Regions from separate parts of the Homo sapiens genome. Here region 2 is linked to region 1. Evidence: fine-mapped expression QTL. A gene starts in region 1. The other region holds a variant in brackets. All regions are shown on one strand. Distances are between the middles of the regions.

Region 1 (2,903 bases):
GGGATGTCAGGAAGTCGCTTTATTTGTAAAATGATGAGTTAGACCAGAATATATTCTCTGATAGAAGTTTACAAAGATGAATAAAGATTTATAGGCTAGGCGCGGTGGCTCACGCCTAAAATCCCAACACTTTCGGAAGCTGAGGATCCCTAGTGCACAGGAATTCGAGATCAGCCTGGGCAACCTGGTGAGACCCCCTTCTCTACCAAAAATAAATAAATAAATAAATAATAAATTTTTAAAATGTATTAGCTGGGCTTGGTGACGTAGTGAGGCAGGAGGATGCCTTGAGCCCAGGAGTTCAAGGCTGCAGCGAGCCGTGATCATAGCACTGCACTTTGGCATGGGAGATAGAGCAAGACCTTAGCTCTAAAAAAAAAAAAAAAAAAAAATTAATAGATTTATAAAGTCCATTCTATGGAGGAAAGTCTCTTATTCAGTTATGAACTGCTGCGAACCTAAAGGCAGGAAGGCAAATTCCCTTCAGTTCGGCAAACACGAAGACCCCACATTCGCGTCGTCTGTGAAGAAGGCACTCCGAACCTCAGGCGCTCACTCGCCAGGTTTAAGAGGATGAGCAAAGAATAAAAGTCCTCTCACCCAGGAAGCGTTTCGCTTCCCTTAGCTGGAGCCACGCTCCAAGGTGCCAAAGCCTAATTGCTGTCCACTCTCACCAATCCGTTAGCAAGATGAGCATCTACCTGCTGCGAACGTGGCGGTGACACTACTACAGCTCCCAGCCTGCCTCCCGCCCGCCCCCACTCCTGGACTCCACAGACCGTGACTTGTAGTCCCAGCCCACGGCTGGCGGCGGTGCGGGACTCCTGAAAACTGCTTTTCCTCCCTAGTAGGCGGTGAGACCGCAAATTCCATCAGAATCCTACTCTGACCCACTAGGGCTTGGCCCGCTCAGAGTCGCATTCCCTCCTCCAAATGAACCAACTCTCCTCCCAGCGATACTCCGACCTCTGAGCACCCCGGGCGGGGCCACGCCCCGGAAATGGAGTCAGGTCTCCAGGCCGCCCGCTGAAGTGCCTTCCAGCCACTCCAAGCGGGGCTGGGGCCGGCGGGGCGGGCTTGGGGGCGTGGCCGGGAGGCGGGCGGGGATGCATCTGCGGGCGCAGCGCTTGGGGCGGAGCCGCAGCGCGAGGCCGCGCATCTGGGTGGCGGCGGGGACGCGCCCGTGGGGAGAGGCGGCTGCGGCTGCGGCTGCGGCTGCTGGCGGGGGGTGGGGGGGAGGAGGAACCGGGAAGGGGGGGCAGGGCGAGCGGAGAGCTAGCTGTGTTCCTGAGGCGGCGGCGGCGGCGGCGGCGGCGGCGGCGTCTCCGACGGAGGAGGAGGGCGGGGAAGGAGGATGGAGCAAGCTGGGGGTTGGGGTTGGCGCTAGCGCAGCGGCTCGCCTGGTACTGTGGGAGAGCGGCGGCTGCTCCTGGAAGTTGTGGTGTCGGGAGCCCAGCCGGTGCCGCCGCAGCCGCCGCCTAGGGCGGTGGGGAGGAGGAGGGAGCCGCGGGGCTTGGCGGGGTCGGGAGGGAGGGACGTGCTGGGGGAACGAGCTGGGGAAGACGGAGCGGGCTCTGTGCCGGGCGGGCGGGCGGCGGGGGGGCCAGCGACCGCAGCCGGGGGGACGCGGGAGGATGGAGCAAGTGGAGATCCTGAGGAAATTCATCCAGAGGGTCCAGGCCATGAAGAGTCCTGACCACAATGGGGAGGACAACTTCGCCCGGGACTTCATGGTGAGTCTCTCCCCTCGCTGTCGCGTTTTCTTGCCGGCGCCGGAGCCCATCGCCGCCTCTCCCGGCCGGGCCGCCAGTGCTTTGTGTACCTCTGTGAGGAGAGGGGCGGAGGGGGCGCGCACCAGCCGGGTGAGCCGGGTGGTCTCGGAGGCCAGCGGGAGGCGAGAGCGCCTCCCCCCGTGGCCTCCTTTCTTCTCCCATGTTCGCGACCCCCGCGCGGGTTCCCGGGACGCGAAGGGAGCGGCCGCGCGGCCGAGCCCGCAGCCTGCACCGTGGCTCGCGACCACCTATTGTTTACCGGGCCGGGAGCCGTAGGCAAGTGAGGTGCAGGCCGGGGGGGGGGGCTCGCGTTTCCACACCTCCCCGCGCAGTTCGCTCCTCCCAGGAGGGTCGAGGCAAGGTATCTGGCTGTGACCGGGAGGAGTGCAGATCGTGGCTGACAGAGGAACGGGGGTATTGAGGTTGGCACTAACTCCTGGGATCCCTTTGCTCTAGCTGGTCTCAAAGCGGGCAGGGTAGGACTTAGGCCGTTTCTGGGGTCGCAGTCATGATCTCCAACGCTTGGGAAAGGATTGCCCATAAGGAATCTCATGGGTTTACCTAATTTCCATTTACCCGCGTCCCGCTTCTCCTCTCCTGAGGCCCAGGTTTGAGGTGGTCTTGGGGTCCGTGTGACTATAGGTTCAGGGGATAAGTGTGGGTGGGGGAATTATCCTGAAGGAAGCCAGCCGACTTCGGACTCCCCAGGGGATATTGCCGAAGGCGGAGGGGATGTGACTATCACTTCCTATCCGGGGTGGGGGTGGGGAACTTGGGAACAATAGTCCTGGTGGGGCGGAGGCGACGCTACGGGCCGAAGCCCTGAACTGGGAGATAACCTTCCCAGCGCCCCCCCGCCTCCGCCACCCCCTACTTTCCGCCCTCTGCTTGTGCAGGCAGTCTTGAGAGGAGGTGAAGGTTAAAAGTCTTGTTCATGAAATTGCTCTAGATACACTATTGCTTTAGCACACTGTGAGGGGGTCAGATCCGAAGGCGTGAGACCAGAAGTCGACTTCCTACGTTACCCACCCCCCCAACCCCCGCCCTTTTTATTTTTCTGCTGGACAATGTTCCCTCTAGGGTTGTTTCCCGGCTTAGGAGGCGGTGGTTGCGGCTGCTGCTCCTACGGAT
Region 2 (2,903 bases), 29 kb before region 1:
ACACCAAGTTTTACTGTGACTGCTCGGGCAGCTCTTAGATGTCAGGTGCTGTTTTTCTCATTCATTTTTTGAGACAGCATCTCCCTCTGTCACCCAGGCTGGAGTGCAGTGGCACACTCACAGCTCACTGCAGCCTCGACCTCCTGGGCTCAAGTGATCCTCATACTTCAGCCTCCCTAGTAGCTGGGACTACAGGTGTGTGCCACTACACCCGGCTAATTTTTATATTTTTTGTAGAGACAAGGTTTCACTATGTTACCCAGGCTGGCCTTGAACTTCTGGGTTCAAGTGATCCAGTCACCTTGGCTTCCCAAAGTGCTGGGATAAGCATGGTGAGCCACTGTACCTGGCCATGCTTTTCTCTTTCTTATAGGTAAGCAAAGTATGGCAGTTCATGGAAACCGTCTTTATAAGAGAGCTGATGGGTCCTTTGCCCCCGATTATTCTTTTCTTCCTTCAGACAGACTGGAATATGGTTGTGATGGCTGGAGTAGCCCAGCTGAAACAAGAGGTGACCTTGGGAATGGAAGCTACAAGAGTACCAGGCCACCTCAGCTCTAGACTAAGCCATTGTTTTTTGTTTTTTTTTTTTTTTTTTTTTTTACTCACAGCTGAAGCTATTCCTGACTGATACAGGAATCTAGTGGTAAGTTCTTTTTTCAGTGGGTTTAAGGTTGGTTTCATATCTTTAAGCTGGACAGATTGTCAGATAAATGACTTAAGAGTCAGAACTAATTACCTTTGTACAAATGGAAGGACATCATGAATCTGTATCATTGTAAGTAAAATACTATGACTTGATGATGACTATTTGCTGAGATACTGTGACTTTTCTAATATATGATGATAATAACAGTAATGACACTTATATTCTCCACGGCTGTTGAGATTAACACTTTTGGCCATAGTACATTGATTTAGGTTTTAAAACATGACACTAGAAAGACTAAAATAATTAATTTAATTAATAAGTTTAAACATGAGAAAAAACAAACTAGTTAAATTTACTCAATTTGGTCAAAATGTCTGTTTTCAATATGCTATATCCCTTGATAGTTTTCTGTTACCTGAAGATATTTTCAAGTTGTCTTTTTATTTTTTTAATTACAGACATACATAGTTGTTTTATAGTCTGTGGATCTGTTTCTAATATCTGCTGTTTCCTTTGAATCTTGCTTACAGGGCCAGACTTCCTTATGTACCTCAATATCTTTGTGCATTGCTCATTGTAATTGAAAATTTGTTTTATTTTTATT[TG/T]GGGGGGGGGGCGGGGTTAGGCTCCATTCTACAAAACAGAATGAAAAGGCCAAGATGGGCGAATTACCTAAGGTCAGAAGTTTGAGACTAGCCTGGCCAACATGGTGAAACCCCGTCTCTACAAAAGATCGAAAACTCAGCCAGGCATGGTGGCAGGTGCCTGTAATCCCAGCTACTCGTGAGGCTGAGGCAGGAGAATCACTTGAACCCAGGAGGCAGAGGTTGCAGTGAGCAGAGATCACACCACTGCACTCCAGCCTGGGTGACAAGAGCAAGACTCCATCTCAAACAAAAAAACAAAATATCAACCCTGGCCAGGCACAGTGGCTCACGCCTGTAATCCCAGCACTTTGGGAGGCTGAGGCAGGCGGATCACGAGGTCAGGAGATCAAGACCATCCTGGCTAACATTGGTGAAACCCCGTCTCTACTAAAAATACAAAAAATTAGCCAGGCGTGGTGGCGGGCACCTGTAGTCCCAGCTACTCAGGAGGCTGAGGCAGGAGAATGGCGTGAGCCTGGGAGGCGGAGCTTGCAATGAGCTGAGATCACGCCACTGCACTCCAGCCTGGGCGACAGAGTGAGACTCCGTCTCAAAACAAAAACAAAAACAAAACAAAAAAACAACCCCATTAAAAAATGGTCGAGTTTCCATGGTGAGATGGTCAACAAGCCTGTAAGTTCCTCAGCTACGACTACCAGGTACCTCGGGTTCCTCCCTCCTCCGAGAGACCGCCGAGGTGCGGGCTGTGAGAGAGGGAGCGTGGAGCCTCCGAGGCCGAGGACTCGGTCCCAGTTTGGACAGATAGAAGATCCTGCCGAGTGCCTGTGATTGCAGGCACGCGCCGCCACGCCTGACTGGTTTTGGTGGAGACGGGGTTTCGCTGTGTTGGCCGGGCCGGTCTCCAGCCCCTAACCGCGAGTGATCCGCCCGCCTTGGCCTCCCGAGGTGCCGGGATTGCAGAGGGAGTCTCGTTCACTCAGTGCTCAATGGTGCCCAGGCTGGAGTGCAGTGGCGTGGTCTCGGCTCACTACAACCTACACCTCCCAGCCGCCTGCCTTGGCCTCCCAGAGTGCCGAGATTGCAGCCTCTGCCCGGCCGCCACCCCGTCTGGGAAGTGAGGAGTGTCTCTGCCTGGCCGCCCATCGTCTGGGATGTGAGGAGCCCCTCTGCCTGGCTGCCCAGTCTGGAAAGTGAGGAGCGTCTCCGCCCGGCCGCCATCCCATCTAGGAAGTGAGGAGCGCCTCTTCCCAGCCGCCATCACATCTAGGAAGTGAGGAGCGTCTCTGCCCGGCCGCCCATCGTCTGAGATGTGGGGAGCGCCTCTGCCCCGCCGCCCCATCTGGGATGTGAGGAGCGCCTCTGCCCGGCCGAGACCCCGTCTGGGAGGTGAGGAGCGTCTCTGCCCGGCCGCCCCGTCTGAGAAGTGAGGAGACCCTCTGCCTGGCAACCACCCCGTCTGAAAAGTGAGGAGCCCCTCTGCCCGGCAGCCGCCCCGTCTGGGAGGTGAGGAGCCTCTCCGCCCGGCAGCCACCCTGTCCGGGAGGGAGGTGGGGGGGGTCAGCCCCCCGCCCGGCCAGCTGCCCCATCCGGGAGGGAGGTGGGGGGTCAGCCCCCGCCCGGCCAGCCGTGCCATCCGGGAGGGA

Evidence for each region.
Region 2: its variant is fine-mapped to the expression of PTPN12 in subcutaneous fat (TwinsUK, PIP 0.95).

Annotation. Positions count from the first base shown.
Region 1 is chr7:77,535,913-77,538,815 of GRCh38, forward strand. It overlaps PTPN12 (protein tyrosine phosphatase non-receptor type 12), which reads left to right and starts at 1,383. Exons shown (of 18, transcript NM_002835.4): 1 at 1,383-1,733. The coding sequence starts at 1,635. It overlaps LOC124901681 (a long non-coding RNA gene), which reads right to left and starts at 1,037. Exons shown (of 3, transcript XR_007060395.1): 1 at 459-1,037; 2 at 1-369. RefSeq lists enhancers at 463-512, 683-902 and silencers at 973-1,272, 1,523-1,732, 1,873-1,922.
Region 2 is chr7:77,506,472-77,509,374 of GRCh38, forward strand. No RefSeq gene overlaps it. Among named protein-coding and RNA genes, the nearest start is that of PTPN12, 29 kb to the right of the region's middle. RefSeq lists an enhancer at 2,215-2,903. The variant TG/T (reference allele first, on the strand shown) is at 1,257.